Regions from separate parts of the Homo sapiens genome. Here regions 1, 2 and 3 are each reported to be linked to region 4. Evidence: microRNA targets listed by miRTarBase, many of them from high-throughput screens and not tested one by one. Region 4 holds a microRNA gene; each other region holds the end of a gene's coding sequence.

What was found. The annotated mature microRNA hsa-miR-607 reads GUUCAAAUCCAGAUCUAUAAC and lies in region 4 at 3,002-3,022, opposite strand. An mRNA with a match to its seed (bases 2 to 7 or 8) in the 3' UTR can be bound and repressed. Matches are read on the target gene's strand: a 7mer-m8 pairs with bases 2 to 8, a 7mer-A1 pairs with bases 2 to 7 and ends in A, and an 8mer does both.
Region 1: the mRNA of ZNF146 is a reported target of hsa-miR-607. Seed matches in the 3' UTR shown: 7mer-m8 at 3,553-3,559 and 7mer-A1 at 3,479-3,485.
Region 2: miRTarBase lists PDE7B as a target of hsa-miR-607. Seed matches in the 3' UTR shown: 7mer-A1 at 663-669.
Region 3: miRTarBase lists RALGAPB as a target of hsa-miR-607. Seed matches in the 3' UTR shown: 7mer-A1 at 1,513-1,519.

Annotation. Positions count from the first base shown.
Region 1 is chr19:36,236,741-36,241,809 of GRCh38, reverse strand. ZNF146 (zinc finger protein 146) reads right to left here. Exons shown (of 4, transcript NM_007145.3): 4 at 3,042-5,069. The coding sequence ends at 4,491. It also overlaps a transcript of ZNF565 not described here. Among named protein-coding and RNA genes, the nearest start is that of ZNF146, 24 kb to the right of the region's middle. RefSeq lists a silencer at 726-926.
Region 2 is chr6:136,191,052-136,196,120 of GRCh38, reverse strand. It overlaps PDE7B (phosphodiesterase 7B), which reads right to left. Exons shown (of 13, transcript NM_018945.4): 13 at 547-4,507. The coding sequence ends at 4,281. Among named protein-coding and RNA genes, the nearest start is that of MTFR2, 57 kb to the left of the region's middle.
Region 3 is chr20:38,574,131-38,579,199 of GRCh38, reverse strand. It overlaps RALGAPB (Ral GTPase activating protein non-catalytic subunit beta), which reads right to left. Exons shown (of 30, transcript NM_020336.4): 29 at 4,902-5,050; 30 at 342-4,426. The coding sequence ends at 4,233. Among named protein-coding and RNA genes, the nearest start is that of ADIG, 4.5 kb to the left of the region's middle. RefSeq lists a silencer at 1,268-1,468.
Region 4 is chr10:96,825,683-96,830,751 of GRCh38, forward strand. MIR607 (microRNA 607) reads right to left here and starts at 3,082; the gene lies at 2,987-3,082. It overlaps LOC102723665 (a long non-coding RNA gene), which reads right to left. Exons shown (of 1, transcript NR_135921.1): 1 at 4,950-5,069. RefSeq lists a cis regulatory region at 4,964-5,069.

The DNA.
Region 1 (5,069 bases), not on the chromosome of region 4:
CCCAGCTTTTTTTTTTTTTTTTTTTTTTGACACTCTTCTTGCCAGGCTGGAGTGCAGTGGCACAATCTCAGCTCACTGCAACCTCCACCTCCTGGGTTCAAGCGATTCTCCTAGCTCAGCCTCCCAAAGTACTGGGATGATAGGTGTCCACTACCACGCCCAGCTAATTTTTTGTATTTTTAGTAGACAGGGTTTCACCATGTTGGCCAGGCTGATCTTGAACTCCTGACCTCAGGTGATCCACCCGCCTCCGCTTCACAAAGTGCTGGGATTACAGGCGTGAGCCACTGCGCACGGCCCCAACACTTTTTTTTTTTTTTTTTTTAATACAGAGTCTTGCTCTTGTCACCCAGGCCGGAGTTCAACGGCACGATCTCGGCTCACTGCAACCTCTGCCTCCTGGGTTCAAGCGATTCTCCTGCCTTAACCTCCCAAGTAGCTGGGATTACTGGCCCCCGCTACCACATCTGGCTAATTTTTGTATTTTTAGTAGAGGCGGGGTTTTGCCATGCTGGCCAGGCTGGTCTCGAACTCCTGACCTTGTGATCCGCCCGCCTTGGCCTCCCAAAGTGCTGGGATTACAGGCGTGAGCCACTGCCCCCGACATCATTTTTTAAGGGAATTATTCTTTCCTCCATTAAATAAGTTTGGCATTCTAGTTGAAAATCAGTTGCCCACAGTGTATCAATTGATTTGTGTTGGTATAACAGAATACCTGAGTCTGGTTAACGTATAAGGAACAAGAACATATTGGTACACAGTTCTGGAGGCTGGGAAGTCCACAACTGAGAGACTGACATCTGGCAAGGGCCTTCTTGTTATGTCATCCCATGGAGGAAAGACAAGAGACAGCAAGTGGGGACAAAACTTGCCCTTTTATCATGACACCAATCCTACTCATGAAAGTGGAGACTTCATGGACATCTTTTTTTTTTTTTTTGAGATAGAGTCTCATTCTGTCTCCCAGGCTGGAGTGCAGTAGCACGATCCTGGCTCACTGCAAACCTCTGCCTCCTGGGTTGGAGCAATTCTCCTGCCTCAGCCTCCCAAGTAGCTGGGATTACAGGTGTGTGCCACTACACCCGGCTAATTTTTGTAATTTTAGTAGAGACGGGGTTTTGCCATGTTGGCCAGGCTGGTATTGAACTCGTGACCTCAGGTGATCCACCCGCCTCGGCCTCCCAGAGTGCTGAGATTACAGGTGTGAGCCACCACGACCAGCCCCTTCATGGCCATTTTAAGGGTCTCAACCTTTCATGCCATTACCATGGCAATTAAATTTCAACATTGAGTTTTGGGTGGGACATTCAACCCATAGCATTTGTGGACTCTCAATTCTCTTCCCACTGATCTGTCTCCATCCCTGTGTTTTTCCTCCTGGTTTTGTTTGTTTTCGACAGGGTCTCTGTCACCCAGGCTGCAATATAGTGGTGCAATCACGGCTGACTGCAGCCTCAAACTCCTGGGCTCAAGCAATCCTCCCAGCTCACCCTCCCAAGTGGCTGGGACTACAGATGTGTGGCACATGCCTAGCTAGAATCATCTCTAGATTAGTCATAATACCTAATACAATGTAAATGCTATCCAAATAGTTGTATATTAACATTTGTATTTTTAAAATTGTTGTATATTTTAAACACTTTCCATCCAGGGTTCGTTGATAAATGGATGCAGAGCCCATGGATACAGAGGGCCAACTGTATCATAAAGACAACACCTTTAAATGTGAAATATATGTGCAAACAGGGAAAACAGAGAAAAAGATGGGGTACATCATAATATAAAGGGCAGATTCATTTAGACATTTAAGTATCTAATTCCTCCAAAAAGGCTAAAAGATACAGTGATGCAGTGCCATTTAATGAGTTTTTTAAGGTTTCAAAATCAAGCTCAAATGCTGTATATTATTGACATTCACCATTATTCAAGAAAACCTTTAATAATATTCTTTATATTATAATGTGATCAAAGAATAAAAAAATTTTCATGAAGGGCTGGTTTACAAAATAGAACTCTGTCTAGGGTCTGAGCCATTTTTCTCATACCCGTCCCATTCTCTCTCTGTAACAGCAGTGGGAGGAGTGACAGAGCTCGCAGGTTAAGACAGACACGCAGGTGTTGGTATCTAATGCACTGAACTGTGGAAGTTATGGGAAGTTGTTTTCTCTTTTTAAAAATAAAATTAGCTGGGCATGGTGACTCATACCTGTAATGTAATGGCAGCACTTGAACAGGCCATGGAGAATCACTTCACCCCAGGAGTTTGGGACTAATCTGGGCAATATACGGAGACCCCATCGCTACAATTTTTTTTTTTTAATTGGCACAGCATAGTGGTGCGTGCCTGTAGTCCCAGCTACTTGGGAGGCTGAGGTCGGAGGACTGCTTGAGCCCAGTAAGCAGAGGAGATTGCAGTGAGCCAAGATCCTGCCATGGTATTCTGGCCTGGGCAACAGAGCAAGATGGGAAAAAAAAAAAAAAAGATATTATCAAAAATTTAATATTTAATGCACACGTTTCCCATGGAAATATGCAGGAGAGGAAAACTGACATTCCAAAATCAGCCTAACTGAAAAAGACCAATTATATGAAGCCTGTGCATGTATGAACAAAGAAAAAGTTAAAGTTTTCTAAGCTCATTCTGCAAAATGTTAGAAATACGAAGACAGAGATCATATAGTGCAGCGGTCCCCAACCTTTTTGGTACCAGGGACCTGTTTCATGGAAGACAATTTTTCCACGGACGGTTTGTGGGGGTAGAAGAATGGGGATGGGATGTTTTCAGGATGAAACTGTTCCACCTCAGATCATCAGGCGTTACATTCTCATAAGAAGCGCACAACCTGGATTCCTCACATGCACAGTTCCCAATAGGGTTCGCGCTCCTATGAGAACTAATGCCACCGCTGATCTGGCAGGAGGTGGAGCTCAGGTGGCAATGCTCGCTCACCCGCCACTCACCTCCTGCCATGCAGCTGGGGGGAGCTGGGGACCCCGATATAGTGTGTATGCCATGTTAAAATAATTAAAACAGATTTGGATTGTGCTGTCCTTTTAAATTTTAATAAAATAGATTAATTTCATATTACATAGAGAGCAAGTCCATCCATTCATCCGTGATAAAATTTTAGAAATATTTTCTATAAAATGTTTAGTATTTAATTGGAAATGAATCCAGTATAACATGACTTCCACAGATACAGCATTCCCATCCTCACTCCCATTCCTATTTTGAGAAATTTTAAAAATACAGAAAAGTACAAAAAATAAGACAAGATATCCCTATACCACAATCCAGAATCAATCAGTATCTTCTTATATTTACTTGAAGTCTTTTGAAAGAGAAGTGGATGTTTATATAAAAAGCTGAAGTCCCCTTTAACCAATACCCATCCCACCTCCCACACTCATTATTTTCCCTTCTCCACTCTTCACAGGTGACCACTATCAAGAGTTTGGTCTGTATCCTTCCAATCCGTTTCAAAAACATGTACATACATATATGCATCCATTACCAATAGATAGTACTGAGTTTTATGAGGAAACTTTTAATTCAAATTTACAAAAAAGTCATTGTACTATCTGTATCATTCTGCAACTTGATCCCCCCTCAACAATTCTGGGATCTTTCTGTTAATACATGTGGATTTCATTTGTTGCATTTTACAGATATATAGTATTACATAAGAATTTCCCATATTGTTCGTGATGGGCTTTCTCAGTTGTTTCTAATTTTTGGCTACTACAAATCAAGCCACAGTAAATATCCTAGTGCGTATTTCCTGAGCATTCATACTCATAAGTAGAACCGCTAAGTATTTCTCAAATTGTTCCAAGGAATGTTTCCCTATTCCCAAGGTCATATGCATTTTAGTACATAGCTTTTCCATATTTCTGTTTTTAATCTCTGGATTCACTTTTGTGTATAGTTCATGGTCTATTTTTCCCCCTTGGAGAACAAACTACCTCCACTTAAAAAAAATAGTTCCATTATTTCCTCATTTCCTGATGCCACTTGTATCATATTCCAAATTCTAATAAATGCATAGGTCTTTTTTTGAAATCTCTTCTGCTCTGCTCAATCAATACCACAGGAGTCTTAATATTAGTTGTAGATGACCATGTCATCTATTTTTGTCTGTTCCTTTCCAATATTTACAACTTAATTTTTCTTGTTACTGGCGAAGATCTCCAGATCTATGGTGGTAGCAATAAAAAACAGGCCTCCATTTTCTGTTCCCACTTTTAGTGAAAATGTGCCTAAACTTTCACCATTATCTCTGCTGCAGGTTTCTCTGTTGGACACAGGGTTTTAATCATATGCATGTCTTTCTCTTCAGTACAAATTTTCTGGTGTCCCTTAAGTTTTTAGTACTTGTTAAAGTTAACCTCATTCGTGGTGCTTTGCTTCAGAAGGATTATTTCTGGGGCATGATGAGGTGCAAATTTCTAATGAAAGCTTTCCCACTTTCAAGGCTTTCATGGGGTTTTTAGTGAGTATGAATTTTCTGGTGTCTAATGTGGTGTGACTTCTGGCTGAAAGCTTTCCCACATTCACTGCACTGATAAGGCTTCTTACCTGTGTGTATTCTCAAATGCAGAGCAAGGGTTGAGAACTGAGAGAAAGCTTTCCCACATTCATTACAACCATAGGGCTTCTCCCCTGTATGGCTTCTCACATGCACAGTGAGAGATGAGCTCTGAGAGAAGGCTTTTCCACAAACATTGCATTCGTAAGGTTTATCACCTGAATGAATCCTCACATGTACAATAAGTGATGTTCGCTGAGAGAAGGCTTTTCCACATTCGTTACATTCATAGGGTTTCTCTCCAGTGTGAATGTTCTGATGTTTTATGAGGTACTTCTTCTGGCCAAAGGCTGTTCCACATTCACTACATTTAAAAGGCTTCTCTCCAATATGGATTTTCTCATGCTCAGTAAGGTTGGATTTGCCACTGAAGGTTTTTCCACACTCCTTACATACAAAGGGCTTCTCTCCTGTGTGAGTTCTCTGGTGTCTGATGAGGTTTGACTTCTGAATGAAAGCTTTCCCGCAATCTTTACACTC
Region 2 (5,069 bases), not on the chromosome of region 4:
AACACAGATCTTAATAAAATGAATATGGGAGAATACATAAAGATACAAGAAAACATTGGAAACATTGGCAGTGTTCTTCTTCTTCTCTATTTCCAGATGGATTTAGAATACCAGATTTAGAATAGAACAGTTCTGCCTGAACTGTTCTATTGTTCTTCATGGCCAGTAATCCTGAAATGTGAGACCATATTTTTCACAAATAATTCTTGCCCTGAGTTGGCTATGTTTTTACAACTTAAAACATTGTACCTCATTCTCATTCATATGAGTTTGACAAATATGAGTCAGAAAAATATCAGGACTCTGGGGAAATGTAAAGCTGAATGGTGGCCCTGTTTCCCTAACTTGGCACTAACGAGCAGGTGATACCTTCATGGACATGGGCGTTTCTGTAGCCCCCAAAGTGGAATGAGTCACGTGGGCCATGTTTGCATCTGTGTTCTTTCCTCGAATGTTTCCTCTCCTGAGCAGTGGGATCCTTTTATTGAATCCAATTCATTGACTGGTAACATGTTACCTGGTGAGAATTAGGATATTTTCATCTTGTGATATTTTAAAGAAATTATCTTTATTTTTATTTGTTCATCTAGACATGCCAATGGCTACTTAGGCCACATTTTGAGCAAAACTCACAAGGTAGTTCTTTTTTTTTTTTTTTTTTTTTTCAAACCTCACATGTGTATACAAAATGACACAGTTTAAAGGATTTGTTTAAAAGAACAAAGCATGAGAAATACAGTGAGATACAAGCTCATAACCAAACCTAAATAAGTAAGCAGATCTGATTCAACACGAGAAAAGATTACAAAACAAGACCTAGTTTTGTAGGAAGCACTATCTGAAGACAAAGTTGCAGGACACGCTGCAAGTCCCTTTGCGGGGAGCCATAAGCAGGGAGAAATAACCTGGTTTCTACTTAGCCTAGCAGGGAGTTATGGGTAGGTCAGGGTTTCCTAAATAAGGTCCTGACAATTCATCACTGTTATTAAAAGGAAGAGCAGATTTTTCCTATCAGGCCTGGCAGTGATATGTATTCTCTCTCTGTCTTAATTTAATCTTAACTTTACCGTCAGCTTACTACACACAGTCCTTTGATTCCTTTCTTCTCAAGCAATGAAAGAATTAAACCTGGCAAGTCAACTATTGATGGTCCATGGACAAGGAGAACAAGATTGTAAAGAAAAAATCTGTGGATGATCCAATAGCTGTGGGATTTTTTGTTTGTTTGTTTGAGACGGATTCTAGCTCTGTTGCCAGGCTGGAGTGCAGTGGTGCGATCTCAGTTCACTACAACTTCCACCTCCCAGGTTCAAGCGATTCTCCTGCCTCAGCTTCCTGAGTAGCTGGGATTGCAGGCACGCACTGCCATGCCCAGCTAATTTTTGTATTTTTAGTAGAGACGGGGTTTCACCATGTTGGCCAGAATGGTCTCGATCTCTTGAACTTGTGATCTGCCCAACTTGGCCTCCCAAAGTGCTAGGATTACAGGCGTGAGCCACCGCACCCCGCCAGTGTTTTAACTAGTAATTGGACTCCTATTGAAATATTGCAAGACAGCCACTAATAGCCAAGAAAAAAAGAGACATTTTCACATTCTTTTTCTTTTTACCAACAAATGAGGAACTCAAGAACTCCCCAGTTGAATGAGGGAGGCAGCTGCATCAAGTTTATGCCTCATTTTACTTCAGATTTTTATTGTACTAGTGGCTACATCATGGGCTTACCCATTGGATATTTGGTAGTTTTTTCTCTGTGAGCTCTTCTTCAAGACCTAATTGTAATGTAAACTATCAACTCAGAACTACTAAGAATACCTCCAATCTCATTTATTTAAATTATTATATAATTATAATTTAAACAAAGCCATTTTTTAGTCCCAAGAAACCCCATTAGCTAAAATAGTGTCTTCTTTCCTACCTCTACTTTTCTTGTCCCCAGCAATTGCCTTCCTTGATTTGACCTCATATACATTAAAAATAGACTGTTCAAAAGCCCTATGTGTACCATCAAACCAAAGTAAGACAGGTTTGGAAGTAGGAATACATCTGACATATTCTCTTTTGGAGCCTCACCAAGCTGAGAACTGCAGAATACTAAAGTGATAAAGGAAAATATATCAGTTCACAGTTTTACAGAAAAAAAAATACAAAGCTAGTGTTAACTTTCCACAACCTCCCTTCTTACCCACATCAATAATTTCAACTTACCATCCACCTATTTCATAAGATCTTCACACTTTCTTTAGCACCATCTGATAATCTCTCCTACTTCAATGAAAATACAACCAACTTTCCAAAATTTCCCCTGAACCTTAATTCTGCAAGCCTCAGTCTCCCTATAGGAACTTATTATAGGCCAATCAGTATTTCCTTTGCATGTTAGGAGAAAAATCTCTAAAACAGTTGCACTTAGGAAATAAGTGCTAGCTGTCATTCTATCAGCATGAGGATCAGGTTGATAGTGGCAGAAACAGTCATTCTCCCACTACCACATTGTTTAAAGTAAAAAGAAAGGGGCATCAACAATTTTCATCTAACATTAGTTACGCTGAAACTTCTAAAGAAAAGGTTCAATGCACAGCGTTTAGCAGCCTAGAGAAGAATGCTGTAACAAACTGATTTTACGGCCAGGTGTCTGAGAAAAAATGGCAACGAAATTCCAAGGTGACACTCCAAGCTAGAGACATAATTAACTACAATGACCTGCCAGGAAGGTAAAGTCTGTTATAAAACTGAAATATTTTCTTTACTTAAATAATATGAACTTCAGCTAAACAGTTGGGTAGTTGTTCACATGAGATTAAGGAAAAAGAAAAATCCAGTTACTATCGACACTAAAGAAATGCACACCAACCAAACACCAAAAGTACTTTGGTACTATAGCCATAATAGACAAATGTGTGGCATGGGAGCAGGGAATTCCCTGATGGTTAGATGACAGGGTCATAGAAGGTTTCTGAGACCTGCTATGTCTCCTGTGAGGCTGACGCACCGCCATGATCTGTAACAAGAGTCACATAAACACAAGCTTAGCAGCTGGCTTGTTAAAACATCGCTGTGTTGAAAAGTGACTGATTCAGGCTTGTTGAAGGGTCTCATTAATCTGAGGAAACGATGCTTGGTGCCATAGATTAAACACTATGGTCTCAAGCGGAATGCATGTGAAGTTTCCAAAATGTTTCCTCAAAGACTTTATTCAGTTTTGGTTTGTGACCTTAGCTGGAAAACATACAGATGAACATGGGAAGGCAGTTGAGAAAGACATCTATGAGGATTTAAGTTGGGCAGCTTTCAGAAGATGAAAGATGTTTAAAGTTAAGGCCTTTATCTGCAAACAATAGTATATTAATAAACTCTATACCATATTTACAAATGCATTCTCTTGTATTAAAACTAACAGTATTTTCACAGTGCCATTGTTTATACAGGTAGCAATCCCATAATACTCATGTATTTTGGCATGGGAATCAGTAGCGTTTGGTATTTACAGAAAATGTACATGGGTGAATATAAACATGTCACAGAATCCATAAAAGACAGATTGGCTAATGGTGCAAAGGAATGAACTGTACAGCACCTTCCCTTCGGATTGGATAGGAAACGTGGTTTCTTAAACTGCGAAGATGCCAAGTCTCTGCCCCAAAGTGGCATAATAAAGTCAATAGCAAAACAATGAACCCCCTGTTCAAGTTTGGGTACATTGAATGACCTTAGTCCAAAGTTGCAGATCCATTGTCTAGTGCATAAAATATAAAAGTTAAAAAGATTTATTATTTTTATAATAATATTATTATTAAAATAGAAGGTACTTTCTCTCACACTCTCATTTGTGCTCTTGCACTTAAGACCAATATCCTTGGCGTTGCAAATATGCTGGTGTTTCTGTCACGCAGATCAGCAGTCAGATAGCAAACGCTCAAACGCTCCGGACTTAGGAATTGCTGCCTGTTCCAGTGCGACCCGGAACAAGGCGGACACGGCAGGAGCACCTCATTCTTCCTCCTAGTCTTCTCCTGGAGCAGGGAGAGCCTGCCCGTGGGATCAGCTCCCACGTTACTGAATGGAGTTGCTCATTTCGGCAGCGAATGCTGAGGTGACAAATGGCTTCTGTACATTTGCGAAAAGGAGGGGAGGCAGGTAAGTGGGAGGAAGATGGCGTTCCAAAGAGCCCCAGGACAACACTCAGAAAGTGGCTGGGCTGCTGCGTGAGGGCCCCTCCACGCTGCTTCTGCCCTCTGGGGGCCCTGCCGGAGGAGAGCCGCGTCTAAGTTGGGCCGGCCCCTAGGGGCTGTCGCCTTCCTGCTCCTCGCTCTCAGTCCCTTGGCCTGCGTGGTCGTGGTCAGGCCCGCTGCCACTGCTGCCCCTGCTTCTGTGCTGCCTGGGCAACAGGCTCTTCCACTGGGCCTTGTTGTGTGCGAGGTGGCCCAGCATGTTCTCCGACAGGGTGCTGTTACCCGTGAAATGGGCCCATTCCCGGAAGAGCGGCTCCACGATGTAGCTCATGAAACCTAGAACAGGCAAGTCAAGGCTCAGCATCACAGCGTGGTGAAACCCGCTCCTTACTCCCTCCCGAGCATGACTGGGGACCCACCACGCCCGGCTAATTTTTGTATCTTTAGTAGAGATGGGGTTTCCCCATGTTGGCCAGGTTGGCCTTGAACTCCCGACCTCAAGTGATCCGCCCGCCTCGGCCTCCCAAAGTGCTGGGATTACGGGCCTGAGCCACTGTGCCCGGCCTTACTTAGGTTTTATTGTATTTCCTTGATGTGTACCAGTGAGGAGAAATGGCAAATGTTTTCAGCCTAATAAAAATTTCCAGCTCTGGGGCCAGAAGGGCAAGCAAGATAATGGTGGCTACCCTCAGCCTAGGAGCATAAGATGTGTCACTTTGGGCTTGTCCCTGAATGGCTTTGTGCCTCAGTTTCCTCACTTGCAAAAAGACGCTAAAGAGAATACTAAACTCGTAGGGTTGTTATGACAATTAAATGACTTAATGTATGTACAATGCTTAGAAAACTCTTGGCACATAGTAAACTCCCAGTGAATACTGGCTATTACTTGCAGAGGGAG
Region 3 (5,069 bases), not on the chromosome of region 4:
GGGCTCAAATTTTCTGCAAGCAGAGGGCACAGCTGGCACTTTCTTGCTCCCGTAACATAAGCATCTATCTCCTCAGCAATTCGCAGCCCCTGAAAGGTGAGCCTCTATTGGCAGTGTTTTAATTATACAAGCTCCTTCCAGCAGAGAAGGCCAAATACTTTTCTTAAAATTAATCAAACTTTGAGTATTTCATGAAATACTCATTTAATGTTCATTTAAACTACAGATCTAAATTATAAAGGGCAGCCAAAGCCGAGCAGACATCCCCTGAAAGGGTAAAATTAACAGCACCAGTGTAGGAGTAAAGCCTCAGCCTGTATCCAAAAGCACACACAAAGTTATTAGATAAGAATCTCCTTAAAATTTAATTGACTAAATGTATTACATTCAATATTCCATGGGCTTCTTCTGGACAAAGGATCGGCATAAATACAAACAAACCTCTGGACCTTCTTCCCTAACCGACGAAGATGAAACACAGGAGGCAAGGGGCACGGGCACGCCTTCATATTTACACTTTGCCTTTACTTTACAGTTCAGTGCCAGAAATATTTACAGAAAATACAATAAGAAAAAATCATGTCTTGGCAACATACTGAAATTCATACAAACTGTATATATGATTTCAAGCAAATAATGATACTGCTTATTTTTTAGCCACAACTGCCAAGCCCTTCAGAGGAGAAAGATGTCTTGGTCACTATAAGAGATGAGGACTTGGGAAACTTGGTTTGCTTCAACAAGTATTTACTGGGCGCCTACTATATGCAAGGCACTGTGGAATCCCAAATTATACCTTTTCCCTCACCATTAAAAAAAGAAAAGCATCTGAAGAACATGAGTTGATATTCTGAGAAACACACTAGAAGTACATGGCTTCTTTAGCTACTAAGAAACCCACCGTTTGATTCCACATCGTACGGATAGACCACCTCCAATCTCTCCAACTCAGGAAAAGAGGCTGTCATGGAAATCTTTAAAACAGACCATCTGACTCCAATGTCATTTCATGTAAACACAGCAATCAGTTCTTTTCAGGAAGAGAGAACCTGAATGGGCTTTAAAATGGTGAATAGAGAACTACTGCCAGCAGCAGTGTCAAATTACCTCCAATACATGTTTCTTTTTTTATTATTTATTTATTTATTTATTTTTACCACCTACCACAAAACACATCTTTGAGCAAGGCTAACTTCCACTTTGGGTAAAGCTCCACCTTCCAGAAGAAATGAATACTCTTAAAGACTCTGCCTCTCTAGAACCCAGTCTGCAGAGTCTGACAAATGCTTCCCTAGTGTATGGAGAAGGTAACCGTTCATGAAGGCCTCATACACAGAACCTGCAGCAGGTAACTGACATTACTGGCCAAAGGTGTGGGTACTTGTATTCATCAATGAATCCAGAGGAAAATGGGCTGCTCTGAAATAAAGGATCTGGAAATGAAGGAAAATGTGCATGAGTATGCGAGTGTGTGTGTGTGTGTGTGTGTGTGTGTGTGTGTCTGATTAGTCCTTTCAAAGGCCCAATGGATGGAAGAGGGTCTCAAGAGGAAGCCCTAGACAAAAAGGAAAGCTAGCTAAATAAGGAAAGGATTAACAAGGTAAAAGCCCTCCTCACTGTCCTCAGTGCTCCCAACCAGAGGGGAGGAGAAAAGCTCCCTCCTGCAACTTAAGAAGGCAGTAGAAGGGAAACCTTACTTACCACCTTCCTCTTCACGGAATGCCACACTCATCCACCCCCGGCATACCCAACAGATATAGCAACTGAACTGTTTAAGCCACAGACAAAAGTGGTCCTGGTTTCCCCCCAGAGGCTAGAACATATGCTGGCAAATTTATCAATGGACTACTAAATATTAATATTAGGTGCTAAATATGTTCCTCCAGTGCTATTCTACTCAAAGTGATTTTTAACAAAGGCAGGTGGGTAAAAATAGTGACCATGAACTCAAATCCATACTAGTGAAAGAGCTAAGCGTTCTTCCCACTCCCTCTTTGGGCAGATGTTATTGTGAGCAGAAGGAACCAGCGCCTGGTAAGGTATGGGTATCCCATATTCCACTGGCTCCGTACACACTGGGAGTTTCATGCCTTCAGGGGCTGCACATCCTTCCTTCCCTGGAAGACGAGGAAGTCTCCCAGATCACAAATGCATTCAACATGATTGTTCATGTATCAAATACATTGGAATTACAAGGAGTTGCCAGAATTTAGAGCTAACTGAAGGATCAGCAAGACCAACCCTCATACACACACACATACAGCACATTTTTCTGAAATTAACTATGCCAAAAGTAAAAGTTTGATCTGAAGAATCACACTGAAGAAGTACATCTGCATCAGTTATTTTTAACCTCTGGAATGCTGTAAGTTACATATTAATTTATAGCCTTCTCTGCTCACTTCAACTAGAACAAGAGCCCATTTTCCCCTCAAAATGTCAATCTAGAATTACCTTGAAAGTTATTAAACCTCATCTTCTTCCTGTGAACTACTAGAACATTTTTAGGGTAGAATTTGCTCATCTTTATCCTATATGCCCTCTCCCATGTTACCATCTGGAAACATCAATTTATTGCCCAGCTTAAAAAGAAAATCAACTATTGAATAATACTATAACCTGAATGGAAACTGGAGTCATAGAAAGAGGAGGTTATCTTTACCTGAGCTTAAAACAAACATGAACAGGTTATGGCAAACTTTAAACCAAGAGCTGCTATGCCCATATTTCTTGCTTATAGATGACAAAATGCACATTTCTGGAATAAGAGACATTTGCACAGGGAATTAGGTCTCACACTATCCCCACTCCGTAAGTAAACCACCAAAACATCAAACCAAACAGATGGTTGTAGCTCTGACCCACAGTCGACTGACATCAGAGTTCAAGTGGGAAAACACCCCTTATACAACTGTGATCATTCCTCTTTGGACTTTAAATATCACTTATTTTCTTAAAATAATCTTACTAAAGAAGAAAGCACATGAGAATAGGATAAATGAGCAGTGTATACTGTAGCACTGTAACAGGAATCCTTGGATGTTCTGGGTCTGGCCACCTCAAAAGTTTTATCCCTGCAGAAAAGTAGCAGCGAGGTAATAGAAGTATTTCCAAAACCTGGCAGGGATCTGTTGGCTGGCAAAGTCCAGAAAACATGACAACAGCCATTTCTAACAGTAGCCACCCAAAGAGGTGGTCACTCATGTTTGTCAATTATGAGGAAATCCAGTAGTTCTCTGGGAGAGATCTGAATTAGTAGCGTTGAGAGGCTATTCCTGAACCCCATATTAGAATCCTTCACAAACTACTGCAGTTTGCTGCTTGGTCCTGAAATAAGAGACAATGGATGAAACCAAATAATTTTCAACCCTTATTGTGAATTTACATTTCTTTAAATAATATTTAATCAATGAATCACAAATATTTAACCTGTCATTATGTCACCCCGCTGGACAATAATGGAGAGAGTGGGGTATCACTGCTGTCTTATAACTTTTAACCCCACAAACTTTATTTGCATCCCCATTAAAGGACAAGGCCATGCTCCATTTCTGATCTGTTCCTGGGTCACTCAGAAACTGAGGCTTTCAGACAGATCTGTGCAGTGATGAGAAGGACAACTTTTTGAAATGTGGAGAAAAAAATATGACATCTTTTAATGTCAGGCTTCTTATCTGAGCAAAAAACATGTATCATCTTTTCTTTTTGTCAGTGTGACAGCTGGATGACAAGAAGACCTACAACTGAGTAGAAGGCTGTGACTTCTTTCCTTCTCCTCCATGCTATCAACATGAGTCTTTAAATGTCCTGTAAGATTCTGAGATTTTAATTTTGAATACAACCTCCTAAAAAGTGAGGTAAAAAACTATCTTCAACTTCTATATTGCAAATTTGTTGATACTACCAATGCACGTGTTTAACTGAGATGCATAAAAGCCTTTCTCCTCAAAAGGCTTATGTTTAACTAAAATTGTCACTTTTAAAAGAAAGTTTATGGCTAAAATGTATATCATCATTATCAGCAGGAGTGTGATTGTGTCTGGGAGCCCATTTCACTAGATAGCCCAAAGTCTTCTATCAAATGGGTTATAATGTGTTTCTTCTATTCTGGTGATTAAACAGTAAGCTCTTGGGAGTGATTTGTTTTTATTTTTACAGTGATCACCTATCAAACTGTTCTGCTGTGTTATAGTTCCCAAACTGGAGTTCAACAGTCTTAGAAATTCAGTGGTCTAAGAACTGCAGTTCTTGAGTCCAACCTCCTGGAAAAGTGAAGTATAAAACTCTGGCTCCAGCTGCTTGTTCCGGTACTTGTTGACAATGTCGGTGATTTTCTGTTTCCGGCGGACATGGGGGGGACTGTAGGAGTCACTTTCCAGTCTCTTTCTTCTACAAATGTTAATTACAGTCTGCCTCACCAGAAAGCCTTGAAAATAGAGAGTTTTAAAATAAACGTTAGAAACTAGTCACTTACGTAGGTGAACTGTAAGTATTCAGGTGAACTATTCTCCGCATACTCAAAACTATTTCATTCAATTTGCAAACTTCCCATCCCCAGAGAGATAGACATAGTGCTAAGATAAAACTGTCAGAAGAAACACACAATGACAAGGAAAAGGAGAATCAAAATCTATTCTAAAAACCTATTTTCTGTCCTGGATTACAAACAGCTATCTTCAATATTTTAATACTAGAAGTTAGTGAGGTTTTACTTACACTTACTAGATTAAGGACAGATTTAAAAAGAACGAAACATGCTCCCTTTTTAACAAGAGCCATACCATTTCCTACATGTGGAAGCTATTAATTATCACCATTTCCTTATTTTTACTTCTTTTTGGTTTATAAAAATGATAAAGAAAAAGAAAATTTAACTCTTCGGCCACATATGAAGACCTTACCAAGAGCTCGCCTGCTGACAATCATCCCATCCACAAGAGGGATGACCATATTAAATTTTCCAGTGGCTCCTTGAATTTTTATCCGGAATAATCCAGTGTTTAAAGGGTGGATGAAGATGACAGGAACTTCTTTTTCAAGAGTTGTAGATCTTAAGAAAAGAAAATTGT
Region 4 (5,069 bases):
TACTCGGGAGGCTGAGGCAGGAGAATGGCGTGAACCCGGGAGGCGGAGCTTGCAGTGAGCCGAGATTGCATCGCTGCACTCCAGCCTGGGCGACAGAGCGAGACTCTGTCTCAAAAAAAAAAAAAAAAAAAAAAAGAAAAAACTAGATTTGTTGTTGCCAGCGGGTGAGGAGATGGGGAATGATGAATAACTGCTGATATTTCAGGGTTTCTTTCTGGGGTGATGAAATGTTCTAAAAGTGATTGTGGTGATGGTTGCACAACTTTGTGAATATACGAAAACCCCCTGAAGTGTACATTTTATTCTTTTATTATTTTGTAATGGTACTAAGTTCTAAAGATAGTAGAAAAGCTAATATCATCAAGTTCCTTAAATGATAGTAAGAAAACCTTCCGGGCTGGGCGTGGTGGTGGGTGCCTGTAATCCCAGCTACTTGGGAGGGTGAGGCAAGAGAACTGCTTGAACCCGGGAGGTGGAGGTTGCAGAAAGCTGAGATTGTGCCACTGCACTCCAGCCTGTGTGATAGAGTGAGACTCTGTCTCAAAAAAAAAAAAAAAAAGAAAGAAAGAAAGAAAAGAAGGAAAGAAGGAAAGAAGAAAGAAAGAAAAGAAAAGAAAGAAAGACTTCTGATGCCAGAAGCCCCCTCCATCAACAATCTGTCGAGCAATGTTCTTCACTCAGAGGCTCCCATCTGACACTAGGTAGGGAAGGCGTTGGTGCCCTTTGCCCATAACTAGCCCATGACAGAATGCTGCCTTGGACAGAGCCCTCACTCACTCCAAAGAGGCCAGGAATGCTAGGTAGGGAGGAATTTACATGCCTAGGCCAGCTCTGGACCAGCCCCAGTCCTATGGTACAGAGAAGGACAGTGGCAGCTAACGAGCTTGGAAAAGTCCAAAGCCAGCCTTGTTTAACACCAGTAACAATTTTACCTCTACACTGAGGGCTAACATGCATCCAATTCCAGTTCCTCTTTCTCCATCTAAGTAACTCCAGAGGTGGCACTAAGCCTGGCCCACTCACACAATCTAGGACAGAGCAATAGTCAGACATCTCAATGGGCTCAGCTTCCCAGTAATAGGAGTTACTGAGAACAGCACTGGGGGAGCCTCTGTCCATGTCAAAAAGGAGCATCTAAGAGGGGTTACTGCCATAACTCCATCCTTCTTGCTGTGCTTTGAGAAACAGAAGCCAAATCCTACCTCCCTTCAAAGAGCTCTAGTTGCTATGGGAACCAATCCCACCCCCCACTTGAGTCCCGAGACTTAGGAGGGTATGGAGCCAGGAGGAGGCTCCCGGGTGTCTCAAGAGCAGCCACACTTCTCTATCAAGGATGCGTTCACACAGTGAACGCTCATCTTACGTTCGTCATCCTGGACCGTTAGGGAGAAGAGAATGACCTTGGTGGGACTACAGGTCTGAAAGAGCCAGGAACAGATCAATAGGCACTCCCCTCTTATAGTGCAAACTTTGAGTGCAAAGTTGGATTGATGAAGCTCACTGTTGAGGGTCAGGCAGGTCCCCTGACAGTAAGGGAAGCTGGAAGTCTTGGGTGCAACAATACACTCACCGCAGGCAGCTCTGTGAAGGTTCACCTTGCAATCCTGCAGATGACAGAGCTTCTCTGCTGGAAATATATCCTGGCCATGGTCTATCTCCCCATGATTCTGGCATGGGATCCCCAGAGTCAGCTGCTCCACAGTAGGGATAAAGCATTTCTGGACGTAAGGCAGGTGAAACAGAGGTGGCTGTGTTGGGGACAAGGTCATGAACAGCAACACTATGTCTCACTTGCCTTTGATACTAAAACACTGGTTCAGGCTGGGGTCAGACGCATTAGTAGCTGTAATCTTTTCCTCTGCCAAGAGGGTGGGCACCACCTCCATCCAATATATTAGTAAACAGTAGATCTCCAATAATGATCCTCCTTTCTGACTGGTAGGATGAAAAGATAATGGGGAAAGAGCCCAAGAGGAATCTTTCGCAGTTGGTGGTGGTTGGGGGGCAGGGGTTGATGGGTCTTGAACTCTAGAACAAGCTTAGTGGCATGGGGATAGTGGACACCCAAACCCATAGCTATATCAAGGAAACCTCCAAGAAGGGAACTGCCTCAAAACAGACAAGCCAGTAGCTGTGTAGGAACTAGGAGCTTTTGGATGTGAGGGTAAAACCATGTTGCCAGGCAGAAAAGATCTCATTTATGCAGAAAGGCAGCACCCGGCTGGGACAGTCAAACATTTCTACCATGCTAAAACATGCGCCAAAGACCCAGAGCCAAGAGCCCAGGAAAAAGCCAAGAGATGCCACTCCTCCCACTGCCTGCTTTCAGATGAAGTGGACACTTCAAATGGGCGAATTTTATGGTATGTGAAATATATCTCAATAAAACTACAGAAGAAAAATAAATGTCACACGTACAACATAAAGTAAAATCATACATGTTTTCTAGGCCAGTGGCATAGAGGTATACAGGCTGAAAAGAGAGAAACTCTGAAAGTTATTTATTTATTGAAACAGGGTCTTGCTTTGTTGCCCAGGCTGGAGTGCAGTGGCATGATATCAGCTCACTGCAACCTCTGCTTCCCGGCTTCAAGTGATTTTCCTGCTTCAGCCTCCAAAGAAGCTGGGATTACAGGTGCACCCCATACCCAGCTAATTTTTTTTGTATTTTTGGTAGAGACAGTGTTTCACCATGCTGTCCAGGCTGGTCTCGAACTCCTGACCTCAAGTGATCCTCCCGGCTTGGTCTCCCAAAGTGCTGAAATTACAGGCGTGAGCCACCATGCCCGGCCTGAAAGTCTTTTATTAAGCAAAAAAAGCCACTACATGAGTAGTTTCTCAAAAAGACCAAAAGCCGTGTGACCAAGTGACATGGCTTCCTTTCTGTCTGGCTAGGTCTTGTCTCTGACTTAGGTCTCATTTCCCCGAAATAGCACTGGAAGCAAAAAATAGTGTGATGGTTAAAGAGCCGGCTTTAAGTAACTCGCCCAAAGTCACACAAGTTATAGATCTGGATTTGAACCCAGGCAGTCTGGCTCCCTGGGTTCCAATCCAGATCTATAACCTGTGTGACTTTAGGCAAGTTACTTAACCTCTCTGTGCTCTGTTATAAAATGGGATACACGATTGGGTTGTTGCGAAGAATAAATAACATAATCTTTGAAACGTGCTTCAAAAAGCATCTCTTGCTTGTTGGAATTTATTTGAAGTTGACTATGTTTTTTTAAAAAAGCCTCCCATTAGGACATGCTTTTTTTAGAAGGCCCCAATCATTTCATCCTCCCATTTGTCAATGATCATTTCTATGTTGCAAGCCATCTTTAATCAGACACCAGGTAGTAGTTGATCTAATGCTGACAAGCCAAGTCCTACTCCCCTTCCCTGACATTCCTTTTCTGCCATTGTGAGAACTATAGAACATGGCTCAGAGGTTGTTTTCAAAGGCTGAGGTCATTGCTATCATTCCTTCATACTCTCACAGATTAACTCCAAACTGCAGAAGCATCTTGGTTTCCCATCATCCTGCAGACTGGGCAAACAGATAGGAGCTTAGGAAGGCCTAATCAGAGAACAGATGCTCATTTCATGCTAAGAATGTGCTAGCACTGTACGTGAATAGTTTCATTTCATTTTCACACAAACCCCATCTTGCAGACTATTATTATCCTCTTTTTCACATGAGGAAATTAATGACCAGAAAAGTTAATATGTCAAGGTCACACAGCCACTGAAAAATGGAGCCAGAATTCCAACCCAGCTGTCTTCAGACCCTATTAACTGCCATGTTATATTACCTGCCCCTCCCTAGAATGTAAGAGTTTACAGCTAAGGCCCTCTTTAACAGTAGCCCAAAGCAACAGAGGTCAGAAATTCTGTCTTATCTATCTATGTCCTCGGTGCCTGGGACACCGCCTGCCATGTGATAGGAACACAGAATGTCCAACTGCTTAACTGTGCTCGGAACATGTCATGTAGAGTTAAGTGAATCCTCCAGTTGCAGAGTCTATTTTCTACTTGTAAGACTATTTATTTATTTACTTATTATTTATTTATTTATCAAGATGGAGTCTCAGCTCTGTCGCCCAGGCTGGAGTGCAGTGGCACGATCTCGGCTCACTGCCACCTCCACTTCCTGGGTTCAACGGATTCTCCTGCCTCAGCCTCTTGAGTAGCTGGGATTACAGGTGCCCACCACCATGCCTAGCTAATTTTTGTATTTTTAGTGGAGACGGGGTTTCACCATGTTGGCCAGGCTGGTCTTGAACTCCTGACCTCAAGTGATCTGCCCACTTCAGCCTCCCAAAGTGCAGAGATTACAGGCGTGAGCCACCGCGCCAAGCCAACTTTCTACTTGTAAGACAATTTAGAGGGGTTTAGAGTCACAGAGATCTTAGTTAGAATTTGGTAGCTATGTGATCTTGACAAATGTATTTAACTCATCTGAGTCTTGTGTCCCTAACTTGGAAAATGTGGTAAATATATACTCATAGCATTATTATCTGGATGGAATGAAACAATGATAAACATATAATAGGTGCTCAATGAATATTAGCTGTTACTATTGCCTCCCTATCCTTTCTTCCAAATAGGTCTTTGTGATAGGTCAACCATGAGTTAGTTCCCAACTCAAAATAAGTGAAGCAGAAATTGGAACTCAGAGTAGAGTAGTAAAACTAGCATTAAATTGGAAATTGGGAAACTTGTCTCCTGGCTTTTGTTGCCCTTTCTCTACCCAGCAACTATGTAATCTTGGTCAAATCACCTTACTTGTCTGGGCTTCCAATTTCATATCTTAAGTTACAAAATTGATCTCTGAAGCCTCTAGGATTCTCTGAATCCATATGTCTGGGACTAAGAGATTATGTCGAGGAATTATTACCCTTGGTTTGATTGTTTTTTAAACAAATTAACTTGGGGTGGTTGGAAAACACATTGATTATTTACTCATCTTAGAGTTACACGTTGTTCATTTATTTGAAACTGAAACGTATTTCCTCCAAACACCGTAGAAACTTAAAGGCCGCAAAAGACTCACACCCACCACCTAGCGGCGAAAAAAGGAAGTTTCA